Linked DNA regions of Homo sapiens: region 2 is linked to region 1. Evidence: fine-mapped expression QTL. A gene starts in region 1. The other region holds a variant in brackets. All regions are shown on one strand. Distances are from middle to middle.

Region 1 (8,334 bases):
AAATTAGCTGGATATGGTGGCGGGCACCTGTAATCCCAGCTAATCGAGAAGCTGAGGTTCGAGAATCCCTTGAACCTGGGAGGCGGCGGTTGCAGTGAGCCAAGATCCCGCCACTGCACTCCAGCCTGGGCAATAGAGCGAGACTCTGACTCAAAAAGGAAAAAAAGAAAAAAGGAGAGAGAGGAGTGTTTATTTCTGTAATAAATTTACTTGTTAATTCTAAACTATTCTTTAAATTAAATGTCAGCTGATTCAATTTGTCAAATCTTGGTTTCCATTACTGAAGATGAAATACTCACTGCCTAAACGGTCTTACCTGCTCGTGTTTGAAGCTAGGCAACATTTCAGGCAGCATTAACAGTTTGTCTGTTGGGACTAGAAGCTTCCTAACGTTGTGCATGGAATTTTTCTTTATGAGGGTGTTGTATCCAGATACCAAGTTTTAAACCCAGTATCTACTCTATACAGAATGTAACCAAAGCAGACTTACATAACAAGTGAATGTGGCCATACAGACATGAAAAAGTGACTTCTATCTTTTGATACCAAACTAGAAAGAGAAAAGCAAGTTCAGAGAACACATTATGACTCATCAAAGTCCAAAAAGAAAAGCTGCGTGTGAACGTAGCACCCTGTGCAGCCTCCTGGAGTCCTTTTACCCTCCAACCACATTTGCTTTTGTATGATTTTCTGCAAAACAAAACAAAAAAAACCCATCATTTTCCTCCTTAACTTCAATTGTTAAATTTCGTTTTACCTCAGAGGTGAAACTCATGCTATATGTTCTACAATCTTCTTTTTGTACCAAGTGAATGACGCTGCCTTTTCATTTCTCCTGTGTTGAGGCCTTATTTTATAAAATTCGTAACTGCTAGGGTACAAACTACAAACAAGACGAATTTTTAGAGGAACAACTTGAAGGGTGATGGGGGAAGGTGGTGCTTTCTTAGACCAATGCGAAGGGAGAGGGAGATGCAATATCTATATTTAATCTCTGTTCCCAACGATGTATTTTAATTCCCATAGCTGTGTGTATACAATGCGTGGATACCAACGCCTCCAAGGACAACATCAAAATTTTATATGAGCTGAAGAATATACACATATAACAAAGGGAATGTTTTCTTCTTTACTTTCCCTGTGACAAAATGCCAGAAGGAATGGACAGTTTCTTTCTCCAGGGACTTACTAATTGATTTGTTTTTGTTTTTGTTTTTTTGAGGATTTGCATGGCAAGTGGAAGTAGAATCTTAAGGGGATAAAGGGCATTTATTCACAAGGGAATAAAAGTGAAGTTATCAATTTCTGAAAATTGGCATGTGAGGCCGGCATGCCAGAGAAACAAATTAGACCCCAAAAAAATTAAAACCTAATACTCTCAATGTAATAAGCATTGCTATTAGGTTAAATCTCTTTATTAGAGACAGGTAGGTTATCTGGCTATATTATTAGTTGCGACTTATTAGGCAGTTAGAAGTTAGTATTTATGTTACACTTTTACTATACTACTAGTCTTGTTTAAAATTTCTCCCTATATATTTCTCAGTTAATAGTTATACCGGCATATCCTCAGGCAGAAAAACAAGTTCTTACAATGGATCCTTCAGGGCACACTATATTCTATTTCTCTTAGCTGTGTTATCTTTCGTTGTCTTGAGGTTCACTTCAAGATAGACAGAAAATGATGAAGCTAAAGTTAACAAGCAAGTAGCAAGACCTTAGAAAGCTATAGGGTGGGTGATCACCAACACTCCCAGCCATCATGAAAATGCTGCCCTAGTGGGCTCTGCTTCAGCCAGCAGTGGACCAGTGATATAAAGAATTCTTGCTTCTTAATGACTACATGGCAGTATTTGGCGTTCTTTCCATTACTTCTTGTCTTCAACTTATCCAGCCTGAAGTTTTAAGCATCCTAGAACTGCATTTCAGACCCAGTTGCTCAAATGGAGTCAATTTTGCAACAGTAAAATGGTCTTAAAATAGGATTTTACTCTAGGGGGAAGAATCCTCAACCAGATAGTCACAGTGCACTTTGAATGACTAATTTAAGCCATTACATTACGAAATAAGGGATAAATCATACTTTTCATAACACTACTGCATAGGAACAGTTTTAAGAGTCAAGCATCTACATTAATCTGAGTCTAAAATAATAGGCCCCTGATTTAAAGTCTCCTAACATTCTTTCACACTTCATAAAACTAAAAATAAAATTGTCTCACCAAACACCGACCTATTGGTCCGGCCAAAGTACTGTATTTCAAGGAAAATTGGAGCAAAGAGGTCTCAAAACCGCGACTTGCCAGCAAATTACAATTTGCAGCCTTAATTGGTCTCAAATGCGGGGTGAGAGGGAAGAGACTACGGTCTGTAGAAAATAAGAGATTTATTCCCCTTTTTAAATCAAAACCAGATTCCATGCTTCAGCCGCCCCCTAACCCGCCAGCCCCGCCCCCAGGGTTTGTTTTTCCATATTTTTGTATATATTTTAGCGAAGATGGCAGGTGAGGGAAGGTTATAGTGCTGTACCTAGTCCACGAAGTAAACAGAGAGGTTAGGGTGGGTTTACTTATTTATAAGGCGTTCAGCCTCTCAGCTGTTTCTCCCTCGTTGGCATTTGGAAGCTTGCAGTCCTTCAGGGAAGAGACAGATTTGGCAGGAACGTTCTTTGTGCCCGCCTCCCTTTTCTATTTTTTATTTTTTTACCTGGAATAGGGGGCAGATTTATAATGACAGCCTTAGGGAAGGGGGAGAAAAAGTTTCAGCCGGCACGACAATGCCCGTTTTTTCCACAGTCCACACTGTGCCACAAACAGCTTTGGTGCCACTCGGAGCCCGTCCCCCGTCCCCTCCCTCTCTCTCTGCAGGCTCGCACTGGCAGGCGGAGGCACAGTTAAATTCCAGCACCTTCTCCACATACCCCCGAACTACTACGCGCTATTACTACGGCTGCCCTCCGTTTTCGCTTCGCCTCCTCCCCTTCCGCAGTCTCCCTGGAGGAGCCCCGCGGCGCCCGAGGAAGAGGACTGCCAGGGAAGGGACAGCGGGCGCCCAGCTCCAGCAGGGCTTGGGGCTTTCTGCATCCCGCGCAGTTTCTCTGCTCCAGGCACAAACGCGGCCCGAGAGCCGGCGCCTTGCAGTCACACACGGATCCACGCATACAGTAGAGCTGTCTAGATCCACATTCTTGCACACCGCCCCCTCCTCCCCCCGCGCTCCCGGAGTCGCTGAGCTGAGCGAGTGACAGGCGCGTCCCGCCAACCCGCGCCCGGACGGGCAGGGAGGAGCGGCGCGCGGGGCCAACTGCGGCGCGTCTTCCGGCGCCCGCGGAGGAGGCGAGGGTGGGACGCTGGGCGGAGCCCGAGTTTAGGAAGAGGAGGGGACGGCTGTCATCAATGAAGTCATATTCATAATCTAGTCCTCTCTCCCTCTGTTTCTGTACTCTGGGTGACTCAGAGAGGGAAGAGATTCAGCCAGCACACTCCTCGCGAGCAAGGTAAATATAACTTACAACTCTTTTCTCCTCTTTCCCCTCCCTTCGGCCGCCCCGCTGCAGCCGCCGCTCAGACCCCTCCGGCACCACGCCGCCTTCGCCCGGGATTATCCATTATTATCCTAATTATTATTTATTGTGCATGCAAGGAGACCAAAACAAACAGGCGGGCCAACCGCCGCGACAAAAAAAAGCCCGCCTCCTCCCCGCGGGCCTCAGGTGGAATGCTCTAACGACAGCTCCCAGGCGGCGGTGGAAGAAACGAGAAAGTTTCAACCGAACCTTGCTGTTCTAATAATAACAGTAATAATTACTACTTCAAGGGGGCAAAGGAGGAAAAAAATCCCAACAAGCCACAGCCTTGATCCTGAGTGGGCAGTCAGAGGCGCTGCCAACTCAAGGTTGCAACACACACATTGGGCCAGGTTGCAATCCCCCCATCCCCTTAAAAGTGAGGCGGCGGGGAGGGGGGTGGCCGCAGGAGGGGGAAGGCCTGGGGGACAGGGGAGGAGGATGGAAACGCTACTGTTCATCCCGGGCAACCCTCCCCGGAAGAGTTGGAAGGGGAACGGGAAAGGAGGGCGGGGAGCCCAGGCTGGCGGCGGGGCGCCAACGGACGCTGTTGCCACCCGCTTCCCAGGGACTTGTTCAAAGGGCTCCGGCTGCGGAGACGTGAGCGGATCGCAGCGGGAGAAGCCTGAGCTGACGCGCGAAGGAGGTAGCGGCCACTGCCGCGGGGCCGGTGCGTGCCTGATCGGAGGTGTCACCTCCACTTTCCGCGTTTCCTCCGGCGTGGATGGGGAGGCTGATTGGTAGGCAGGCCTTTAGGCAAAGGGGCTGCCAGGGGGCTGCGCCCCGGGCGCTGCGGACGTCCCTGCCTCTGGTACCTGGCGGCAGCGCAGGCTCGGGTGTTAAAGTTCGGGATGTCCGGCCCGGGCCGCACTGCTGGAGGGAAGGGAGGAGGCCCCCAAGGAGGTCGGAGGTGCCCGCCAGCCTCCGTTACCCTGCCCTCCCTCTCCCCGGGTCCGTGTTCTTTTGCTTCGCGTCTTCCCCTTGCTTGCGCCGCGGGAGCTGCGGGCGTGGGGCGCCTGCGATCGTCCGGGTGCTAGGGGCGCGCCGGGACCCAGGAGAGCCACGGCGGCGGCTGCGGGCCCGGGAGGCCATGATCCGGATAATCCTGTCTGCCTGACTGTCACAAACAGGACCCGCGCACCACCGGGCAGCGGCGGTGTGGTTCGCCCGGGAAGGGGAAGGGCTGCGGTGGGGAGGGAATAGGGGGGTGGCGAGGGCGGGAGGCGGGGAGACCGGGTAGGAGCCTCCTCCCAACGATGACACGCACTCCTTCCTTCTCGCTCCCTGCTCAGGAGTTTGCTTTATTCCCATCCCAACCTGGTTTACCCCTTCCTTTGCTCTCCCCCTCCACCCGGCCGTCTTCCCTTCCTCCCGTTTGCGTTGCAAAACACGGCCATGCCATCTGCAAAGGTGTCGCGATGCACTTCCCTAAATAACCGGTCCGGCGCGCCAGCCCCTCGGCGCCCTCCGGCCGCAGGGCGCACACGGAGCACAGTGCTCCCGGTGCCCCGCACCAGGCCTCGCAGCCTGGGTGCAGTTACACGGCGGAGGGCGGGGCGCGGCAGTGCGGGCTCCGGCGGACACCCGCGCCTTGGCCGGGGCACTTGGGCCGGTTTCCGGTACACGCGGGGAAATCGCCTCCTGCCAGTGTCTGATCGCTCGCCTCCGCCTCCGCCTCTGCCGCCTGGATTGCATTATTATTTTTATCCGGGTTGCCGTTTGCTGCGGATGGTGGTGAGCGCGGGGCTGGCTGGGCTGCTTGGGGGGTGGGGTGGAGGGAAGTTGGACGTGGATCAGGCAGGAAAAAAAAAGTTTGGCAGGGCGGCTAAGTAGGGTGGAGGGGTGGGAGGGGGCTGCGAGCTCCCGCGGCTCCAGCCTCCGCGCCCTCCCGGCCGGCGCGAGTGTGTCTGCGCGTGAGTGTGAGTGTGAGTGTGTGTTGTGCGCGCAGGAGCCAGTGCGTCGGGAGCAGCGGCTCGGGCAGCTGCTCCTGCCCGCACCCTCCCCTGGAGCCCGGGGAGGACAAGGCGAGGTTTGGTGGCGAGGGCTGGTGGGGGTGGCGTGTGCGTGTGGTTGTGAGTGTGTGTGTGTGCGCGCGCGAGCGGCGGAGAATCAGGAAGTCACAGCAGCGAAGCGCACACAGCACACAGACATGTTTGATTGCCGTGACATGACGCGCGCGAGGGAGGAAGCGGCAGCGGCGGGGGCCGGGCCGCGGGCTGTGGCGCGGGCCTAGAGCCGCGGCTCGGAGACCGGTTCCCGTCCGCCGGCCGCGCCGCCACCCCAAGCTCCGCGAACCCCGCGCCCCTTTTTGTTCCGCGTCCTCCAGGTAAGGAGCCTGCGCAGCCCTGCCGCCGGCTGTGTGCGGAGCTTTCCAGTTCTTTCCCTGCCAGCCCCCTCCGGTCTCCCGGCTCGCCTTTCCTGCAAAGTCAGGCAGGCGGGGGAAATGGGCTCCTTGTCCTCCGATCGATTGCGTGGAAAACTTTCCAGCGGGAGGCACCATGAGGGGGAAGAAGGCCTTGCTGGCCGCTGTTGCTTGTCAGTTCTTTCTCCTCCGGGTCCGGAGAGTGTGAGTCGCTGCGCCCGGGGCTGTTGCACATTCAAACTTCGGGCCTAAACGTACCTCCAACTCTCGCAGGTTTTACTCCAGCAATAAAATAAATATTCAAAGTCGTCCACTAGCTCTTGCTAGGCGTTTGGATTTTTTAAGGGAATGAGGAAGGCTTGGGAATCGAGGGAGTGGGGGTGTTGTGCAGAATCCATTCCTTATTCAATGTCTGCACCGGGTGTTATGTAATTTTAGTGGCACATGGGTGCAAAGCCTAGACTGGGCTTCTCCCCTCCTTTGTTTATATAACTTTTGGGTGAGTTTTGCAAGGTTGTCTCTTTTTTTTCCTCCTCCCTAACCTGATGGAGGTTGGTGCTTTGGAAAAAGCAAAGCGACCTGGGCTAGTAATCTTTTGGAGAGGTGTCATCATTGTCTCCTTTCTGGTCATTATGTAGGCATGTATGACTTTGTATGTGTACTGTTAGAGCTCAAGGAAGACATTAAGGATACACAGTTTGTTGACTGCACTGAGCGGTTATTTTTAACATTTCTGCGTTACCAATATCGAATTTCAAACTTCCATTTCAAAGGACTTAAAATTTACACCTGGTTGTGTGCCTTGCTTGTCTGAACAGAATGCTTGCATAAATAATGAGATTGTTGCTTGGGCGTTGAGTAGCAGAAAATTTCTATCCAACCACCAAAGACTCAGAAACCATTGAGAACCCTAATAATAATTTAAAAAGCCATACCCAATGTTATGTGTGTGTATACTTACATATTCACATTCAAATATTTTCAGTAGTATTTTCCATCTGTTATCAGGGGGGCCACAACCAGAAGCTTGTTGGCCAGCATTGGAGTTTTAGGCTTCCAGGCTACCTCTAGCACACTGGTGAAGTGTTAAGAGGCGTGGCAGATTTGAATCCTAGTTGCTGCATTGTTATGCAAAATGAGACACACTTTTTCTTTGAGGAATCTAATTGCTCTTTTATTCTCTTGGACTTTCTTTCTTTTTTTCCTCAAATGCTTCTTTACAATGCAAATGTTTGCTATTGTAAAGAGGGGATTTAGAGACACCTGTTAGGTCCAAAAGATACTTATTGCGGTAGACTGAGGGGAAAAAAAAAAACAACCCAGTAGATCAGAGGTCCGTCTACCTTGGGGGCATCAGAGAGATGCCATTTTTGTAAAGAACATTTCAAATGAATGAGGAATGTGGGGTATCAGAACCCTTGAAGAGGGTGAGGGGAGGGAGGGCTTCCTTCAATGCAGCCTTTCTCTTATGACTTATATCAGTAACAGCCCAGCATCAGGACTAGGTGCACTGTGGTGTTTCACAGAAAATATTCACCACAAGAGCATGTTCAAAGCAGCCTTAGATCTTTTCTTTTGTTCGTTTGTAAAGTGGTTTTTGAGCATTTCTCGTCAAGTTTCTTGAAAAGTGCTTTGACCAACACCTGAGGCTTAGAATTGACAAAAAAAAAAAAAAAAAAGTGCCTCGGCTTGTATTATATTGTTAATGCTTGAATTCTATTTAAAGTATTCCTGACATGGTATAACTAGAAAGTGACACTTGTGCAGATAAGTATTTAAAATTTTTTTCTTTTATTAAGTTTAAGATAAATCATTCTACAGGCCAGTATAAAAGCATATCACATCCTTTTCTAAAAGGTAATTGTGATGCTCCTTATATTGTTGTAATATTTTGACATTTATTATTATGTATTACAGCAAGAGCATAAAAAGAAGAGTTTTATAAATTATAAAAGTGGTGCTGTCCTCCAGTGTTTTCTTGTTTTTTTTTTTTCTCCTTTAGAAATCTTCCTTTGTAAACAAGGCCTTTGTCAAACTCTTCTAGGTCAGCAGCTTTTTGATACCCCAGAGAAATAATAAATCACTATTTATGACATCTTGACATGGTGCCATGAGGACAACTGAATTATCACATATGTAATACTAAGGACTGTTTCCCAGCATTTGCAAGTGGAAGGAGTGTTGGTAGGACCTGATTTAACCACTTTAAGATTTGATTCTGTTTCTGGTCAAGATGATTTAAGGGACGATAGGGACAAATTCTTTGGTTAACTTGAGTTACCTTAGAAAACTATATGAGTTACATTTCTTTTCTGCTGTATTTCTTGTGAACAGATGAGAAAATTTCCCTAGTATGAAAGCCACATTTAGGGGCTATTTCTGATTTCTCCTTTTTAATGTAAAAGAA
Region 2 (8,334 bases), 48 kb after region 1:
CATTTGATTCCTTGCCTTTAGTAGTACTTTTTGAAATATTTATGAATGAAAGGATATTATGTCTGGAATTTGCTTCAAGACAATTCAGTTTGGGTTTAGAAGAAGAGTAGCAATGAAACAGGAGTCATCACAAGTGAATTTTTGTTGTTTGGGGTTGGTTATAGGAGAAATTAAACTATTCTCTCTGCTTTTGATTATATTTGAAAATGTCTAAAATATAGAGTTAAAGATAAAGTTTAGATCATGAATTGTCAAATTCTAAAATCTTTTTGTACAGTTAAAGCAACACAGAAAACAAAGAGCTTGGCTCAGAGTGCTTAATCACACCACACGTACAGTGTGGCTTTGTGCCCGGACTTTGCTGTAAACTCCAGTGTCCTGGGATGTAGGCGTCACACTTCTGTGTGTTTGTCCCACTTCAGACTCTGTGCAATGGCTTGAACAGCCCAACTCATCCAGTTTGCTACACTCCTACCAGTCAAAATGCAGACTGTCAAGGGGAGGACAGAGTGGAGAGTGGAGTTGTCTGCACGCTTATATTATGCTCTCATCCTGCTCTTCTTTCCTTAATAGGCTGAAGATGAGGAGGGTTATAGAAAACTGATTGATCAAAAGAAAGACAGGCGTTTAGCTTACCTTTTGCAGCAGACCGATGAGTATGTAGCCAATCTGACCAATCTGGTTTGGGAGCACAAGCAAGCCCAGGCAGCCAAAGAGAAGAAGAAGAGGAGGAGGAGGAAGAAGGTGCGTATCCTAGTGGTGGTGGCTGAGTCCAGGGTGTATGGGCAGGGATAAGTTTTTAAGGCGAGTATTGCTCTTTAAGTACTACTTCTTACACTGGTGGAAGGTTTAGATGATTGAATTGTGAAAATTGCATAAATGGGTATGGCATGGAAGTGTTGATTAGGTACACTAGACAACTATTGGAGGTAAGGGCATAATAATGGGATATACTAAACTAAAACAATGTTGTTCATAAATCATTGTTTAATAGAAGATTTTAAATTAAGTACATACAGTCAATTGGGAAAGGAAAAACAGACACAAATAAGTGTTCGCTTAAGTTTAATGCTAGGGTGGCAGGGGATTACTCAATTAAGAATGAAATTTAAGAAGAAAATGCAGTGTACAGGTTGGAAGAAGCCAGAGGAAGATATAAGCAATAGTTACTTGGACAGATGGCAGTGCCAAAGCTGTTCATTCAGTTCTGCTGTCCCTGTGTCGCAGTGAGGTGAGTGTGCACATTGGGGTTTTAGGTAATTACATAAAAAAAGAGTCCTATGTGAAATATCTCCTAATTATCATGAGAAATGAAGGGTAAGATTTAGAATCTCTGCAGCTATTATATCTCAATTCAAGAGTAACCTGCTGAGGATAGGCCTGTGAATATGATCCTCTTTGAAGCTTAAGTCATCCAGTCGTCTAGTTAGTGGTTGATACTGTGTGTTCATGATAAATTCTGTTTAGGCCAGGTACAAACATCAACTGGAAGTCAGAATTGTAAAGGTTGAGGATTGGTAGCATTTAATCATTCATTCTGTATACTGAATAAGTGAACAAAATGCTTTTCAAAAAACAATTAATTTCATGGCTCCTGAATCCTCATACCTGTCTCATAATTAAGGAGGAGGAATAAATGATTAAGAAGGCACCTTCTTGCACTGATTTCTTTAGTATAAGATAGCTTACCTCATTGTGAAGATGAACGAGAGATGACTCAGGGCTTGTGTTTAGACATTTTGTTGGTGAGGAATACCTCATTTTCTTGTCAGTGTAGCATTATAGACTGTGCAAAACTCCAGCTCCAATTCCTACCTTAAAAAGATGTTTTCAGAGTTAGTGAGGAACATATACGTAAGGGGGGAGGGAAGAATGATGGGGAAATAAATCATATAAATGTAGTTATTACCACTGAACTGTAGACTTAAGAATGGTAAAGGTGGTACATTTTATATGTCTAATGACTTCCAGAAAAAATTTTTAAAAATTAAAAAGGAATTACTGACATATTGATAGCAGAGAGAGAGATGGAATTCTGGAATATTCTGTAAGTGGACCCCATTAAATGGCAGTTTTAGTTTTTCCTAATTCAGCCATGTGTTCTGCAGAGGTTGTCACTGTTAGTGTTTTTAGTATTAAAATTTTTGTATTTTACATTTCTTTGTGATTAAAAGCTAATGACCCAGTTTTGAGATTATGGCTTACAATTAATAGATTTCTGCCGTGGTGTTAGATAGTTGCATCGTCGTAGGCAGAGAAAGATACACAATTGAGTGTTGATGATTATGCCTATATTTTTGTGTTCATCTGTACAGAACAGGGACTTGTCACAATTGTTTTTCATGGTGTTATTCTGCATGATCTGTAAGTTGGCACGCCCCTTTCAAACCCTTGCCTTCAATTTGGTAATAGCACTTATTCTTTGTGTCTTATGCTTGCACTCAACATGTGTTAACTGAACACTTACTATGAGCTAGGTCGTGTGCTAGAATGCTGGGAGAAGGAGGGGTACAATGGTGAGGAAAAGCATCCTGCCTTCTCTCACAGTTTAATCAGAGAGAGAAAAAGAGAGGCTAGACTGATATTAATCAGGGAGAGAAAGAGAGGCTAGACAGATATTAATCCAACATGCACCCAACTATACAATGACAAGCTGGGATGAATGTTGTGGAGGGAAACTGTTTCCAGTTGGAGGTGGGGCCTGATTTCTTGGCAAACGCGTAATAGTTGTCAAAGCAGCTACTGTCTACCTTACAGATATCTTTGAGTATCTCCCATTGATTATCTCACATGATCAATGTGCAGAATTTTTACTTTATGGTCAGCCATCTACCCTTCCTTGCATGCTCTTGGGTGCCTAGCATTTGTGCCCTCAGCAGGACTAAGTCGGAGGGGCTCTATTTCCTTCCAGGGTATCTTACTGGGAGAAGTGGGACAAAGAAGGGGGAAGAAAAAAAGAAAAGAAACTGAGGCCCTTAGCCCTTCCTGGTACCTGTCTCTTTTGCGGGGCTTTAAGACTTAGTTCAGAGCGAATTATCCAGTTCCAGATGCACTTTTATTCAAGTGCAAAGGAAGGGGATGCTTTAAGAAGCTGATTTGACACTTTGGATTATCTGTAGTTCTTCTTCCCTCCATTGCAGTGAATGATTGGGAGTTGCTTCTTCTAGCTTCTCTGTAGTGGAGGAAAACTTCTGTGTCTATGAGCATAAAAATCTCTGCTATCCTTTTTAGCACTTTTCCATAGTATTAAGTATTATGCTGTACCTATCAATATTTTTTAAATTAACAAATACTTCAATAAACCTTTGTTTTGAGAAAACCTACTTTACTCAGTGAGCTAGTAGTTAATAGCACTGAGCTGGTAGCAACACTTGAAGGACAACTAAGCTACTGATTACTCTAAGAAATGTGCTATTAAAGATGAATATGGTTGACTTTTTCACTTAATTTAATCTGAAAAAGATTACCTTTTATTTTCAGCGTTAAACTAGTGTACAATTTTTTTTTTTTAATTCCCTAGAAGGACAGAGGCCTCTGTCTTTCTTTGGGAGTTTATTGTGTTGACTTGTTGCTCGTGAATAATAGGGTAGGTTTCCTTTAACATGTTATGACCTTGTTTAATTTTCTCATCATTACAGACATTTTTAGGAAGTACACATTTATAAATCATTTTGTAACTTCTCATTTTCAGCCTGGTCTTCCATTAAAGCCCTTGAAATGGAAGAAGAAGAAGTGAACTACATGTATCTCCTTAAGTGTCAGAGGAGGAATAATTTTTAAAGTATTGAAAACCTAGTTATACGAAACTAATTTCTTTGATGTTACAAGATGAATGTGCTATTATGTGCGTTTAGCGTGACCTTGAGGTTTCCTACAGGGTACAAAAGAGAATGGGGCTAGATCAAGCCACCAGGGCCTGTAGAACTAGGATTGAACATGGCTGAATTAGAAAATTGGACCACTGTCTGAGTCGTGTTAGCAGGTAATCTTTTAAAATCAAAACTACATGAGAAAATATTTATACTAATTTGCTATTATTCTCTTGTAGGCTAGTTCGTTAAAAGATCTATTACCATAGTGCTTCAGTCTCATGATCTGTAAGAAGGCAATAGGAATGTTGTCTACCCCATAGATTTGTAGTGAGGATTACACGGGAAAGTTTATCTAAAGCATGTAGAATACACCCTAACATATAGTAAGTGCTCAGTAAACATTATTTCATCAAGCAATTCTATGATACGAAAGTGGAATCATAATTATAATA[C/T]GGTTATGTTTTTCTGAAAACAAATGTCTTTTTAAACCTTTACTGCATATTCTTTGTGATGTTGAATCAATAATAATTGGTCACCACTTTTTTTCTAGTTGGAAATCAGTTGAATATTAGTGTGTAGGATATCTTTGAGGACAGTGACAGATTCTTTAAATACTGAGGCATGCAGAAGAAAAATGAGGCTTTATCACAGGTGATAAACTCTGCCTACCACCCTGTTCCCCCAACTCCTACAAAGAGAATTTTCTAATTACATGGCCTCTACTTTACTAGGGTTCCTGGCGATTATGAGGCATCTCTCACAGTACTTTAGGGTACATTTTTCCTTAAGCTGTGGTTAGGAGCCCATACCAGGAGCAGCCCTGCCTATTGCTTAAAAGTTTAGCCATCAGCTGGGTGCGGCGGCTCACGCCTGTAATCCCAGCACTTTGGGAGGCCGAGGCGGGCGGATCACGAAGTCAGGAGATCGAGACCATCCTGGCTAACATGTTGAAACCCCATCTCTACTAAAAAATACAAAAAATTAGCCGGGCGTGGTGGCAGGCACCTGTAGTCCCAGCTACTCAGGAGGCTGAGGTGAGAGAATGGTGTGAACCCAGGAGGCAGAGGTTGCAGTGAGCCGAGACGGCGCCACTGCACTCCAGCCTGGGCGACAGAGCGAGACTCTGTCTCAAAAAAAAAAGTCTAGCCATTTCAGAGGTTCAGTTTCCAGAGCCGTTGACATCAGCCAAAACTAAATATTTAATTCTCCCTTCCACATCTTTCAGTGGGATGTATACCAGCAGAACTATTCTTGTGTTATTTATTTGTGACATTTTTTGGAAACATATGATACTAATGGGCACATACTCAGAATCTCTGAGGCAACACTAGACCAGATATAGTCTTCATTGGAGTGTTCGATTTTCTTTCTGAAAGTTCTTTTATCCTGTCTCTCTCTCTCTCTCTTTCTCCTTACCAACCGCTATTATAAGTAAATCTCAGGACTGTGATATTTTGCAGGTTGAACCTTCCTGGCATAATGTATTGGCCAACATAGTGGTAGGAAATGTGTTTTTATCCTGTTTAGATACCAGAATGTCAGAATAGCCTGCCGTTGGCACAGTTTTCAGTAAAAAGAGCTTGAAAAGCAAAGCAGTAATATTGAGACATTTATTTTAAATACAAGCTACTCCCTGATTCTTCTCATTTTTTTTAATCTCTTACAGTTTCCCCAAAGATTATATACTTTATTACAGCTTTCCTCTACAGGATTTTCATAGATGAAAGAAAGGTTCTAATGTAATTCTGGACATTTGAGTGTAGGAACTATTGTAAGGATAGGCGAACACAATGCCACAGTGATTAGATTTATTTGATTAGTTGAGTGTCAAAATGGGGGAGACCAGAAGTTTCGAGAAAAGTCCTGTTTAACTGGATTGACCAGTTACTTGAGTCAAAATGTTTGAATTGATTTTCTCTATAAGAAACAACCCAAGTAATTTGCAAATGCCTGCTAATTTCATATCCCTGGGCATTTTTTAAAATTACCCGATTACCTATCTTAATGCTCAAAGGTCCCCTTAAATGACAGTAAAAATAACTCAAGTGGTTTTTGAAAGCTTAGGTTTCCAGCAAAACAGAATGGATACTTCAGATACCAGCACATTTGAATGTTGTTTCAGTATATTATAATAACACCCACTGGGGGATAAAGTACATTCAGTTTATAATATAGATTGTAAAATATTTGATTTAAAACTTTATGTAATGAGGCTGTTTATAGCCTATGTTAAAGTAATCTAAATAAAATGGCCTACTGAAGTCTTCTTTTGAGTTCAGCTTACACGGGATTTTCATATTTAGAGATTTCTTTCCCTCCTCAGCCCTGTTGTTGATTACTTTTTATACCTTCTGCAAGGAAGATGGGTAGCCATGCACATACCTTTGCTTGTGAACATTGCTAAATGGAAGATATGAATTGACGTTGGCCTTGGAAATTGGGAACACACACTGTCTTTAGTTTGAGTAATTTTTAGTTATGAGTAATCTTTAGTTATGAATAATTCCTATCATGTCCCCTTACATGATTAGGTTAATTATACTCCTCCCTTCCTACATAAGCATAATTAGTTCTAAACTCTTTTGCATGTAGGAAGAAGCCAGTACAAAGTTTCTTGTTCAGTGTTTTGTTTTGTTTTCAATCAATGGAAATAAGTGCAGGCATCAGCCCTTAATATTGATAGCATGTGTCTGCAATTAAACGATGCAGATAACTACATATGAAAATTTCTCAGGTGGCAGGAGACGCTGTAGCAGCTGCTGCATTCACACCAGGACATTTCTTTAGGTGCTTAGAGACTGTCCGAAGTCAGCTCAAACAGTAGACCAATCACAAACTCTTGGGTGTTAATTTTGAACCAAGAAAAAGGGACAGTTGTGTTTGTTTTGCTTTGTTTTTTTAAGTTTTGAGACACAGCATGAAGTTGATGTGAGTACATGTGCGCACCAACCAGCAATGTCATCAAACTGAAGGAATCCAAAGAATGATGGGAGGAGTTGATATCTCTTGTCATAGAGTAGACTGCCACCTGGCCTCTATCTCTTAGAATAACATGGCAGAATTAGGTCCAAGGACAGGGCATGCTTGCGAGGAAAGTCACACAGAGCACCAATTCAATGGCTAATTGTGTGCGTGCTTTTAACTATTTTATGACTTGCAAATGTATTGGCATCTATTTATGATAGTAATAATTTAATGAGCATATGCTAAGTGGAAAGCATTGTTCTTTGTGCTTTCATTCATTCCTTCAATCACCAAATATTTATTTAGCGCCTTTTAAGTGCCTGATGCCCTTGTAGGTGTGGGAATGCACCAGTGAACAAAACAGACAGAAATCCCTGACCTCATAGCCTTATGAAGCAGTTTTCAGGAAATGCGACAGCCAGTCTTAATTATAGACATAAAAGAATAGTCCTCGGACTATCGTTGACCCTTGTACAATGTGGAGATTGAGGCTGGCAGCATATATATTACTTGTGACACTGGATTGTACATGTCGAAATAGTGACCCAGTCCTGCAGAAGCCCTAGGAAGCAGGCACTGTTTGTTACCGTTCCTATTTTATGCAAGAGGGAACTAAGACACAAGAGAAAATGATTTGCTCAAGATCATACAGCTAAGATCTCTTGCACTTAATTACAGAGAGCTAAGATTGAAACACAGTTTGTCTAATTGCAGAACCAAATGTCTTAAATCTAATATTACTCTGTCTCTCAGATTTGATACCTAATAGAACTTTAAAAAATAGTTTTGGGGATTTTAAGTAATGGAAGGGCCTGACTGTGAGGCAGTTTTTAGATAACAATCTAGCTAGTCTATAGGACATTCATAGGAAAGTATCCTTCAGAATAGTTTTGATTATATTAATATATGATGCTTCAAGCTTTTTAATGTACTATTCATTGAAGTGGTGATCCAATTCCACTTGCTAGATATTTGAAATTGGCTTATTCATTGTCTCATTTGATTTTCTTTGTTGGCCAAATTTGTAGCTTATTTCTGATTTGTATGGAAAGAATGGTGGGATTAATTGACTTTCCCCCATTAATTAAAACAGTCCCCTGAGTATAGATTCTGAGAACTCCAAAAATGGAACCTTCAGTGACTGGTAGCAGGGATGGTTTCTTTTTTGAATTCAAGGGTTCTGTTATTGTTCTCTGTGTCACTAGCTTAGATGTAGAGCCTGATGCTCTTTGAAGCTGATCATTTCTTTTGAGCTTATAAATGTTTTTGCTCTGAGGTGACATAAATAGAAATTTAATTACTTGGAAAATCATAACCAAAGGGAGCATTTTATTTCCTACTGTTTGGTGGAAGCTGCATTTTTTTTTATGCCTTGTGCTTTGGCATACATACATACATGTATTTTTGGTAAAAATTGCATTGTAAAGGAACTTCAGAAATTTCAAATGTTGATGGAACTGCCTTTCTTCACTATGACTAAAAGGCTGATTTTAAACTTTAAGTGTTTTCGTAAAAGCTATTTTGTCAAAAGACAGTTGAGTTATTTTCATAGAAGGCA

The links.
Region 2: its variant is fine-mapped to the expression of SMARCA2 in esophagus mucosa (GTEx, PIP above 0.99).

The regions. Positions count from the first base shown.
Region 1 is chr9:2,011,909-2,020,242 of GRCh38, forward strand. It overlaps SMARCA2 (SWI/SNF related BAF chromatin remodeling complex subunit ATPase 2), which reads left to right and starts at 3,439. Exons shown (of 34, transcript NM_003070.5): 1 at 3,439-3,496. RefSeq lists enhancers at 599-728, 2,939-2,988, 3,049-3,098, 3,885-4,441, 7,065-7,663 and silencers at 3,149-3,488, 4,629-4,798, 5,099-5,208, 5,359-5,548.
Region 2 is chr9:2,060,243-2,068,576 of GRCh38, forward strand. SMARCA2 (SWI/SNF related BAF chromatin remodeling complex subunit ATPase 2) reads left to right here. Exons shown (of 34, transcript NM_003070.5): 9 at 574-744. Among named protein-coding and RNA genes, the nearest start is that of SMARCA2, 49 kb to the left of the region's middle. The variant C/T (reference allele first, on the strand shown) is at 4,265.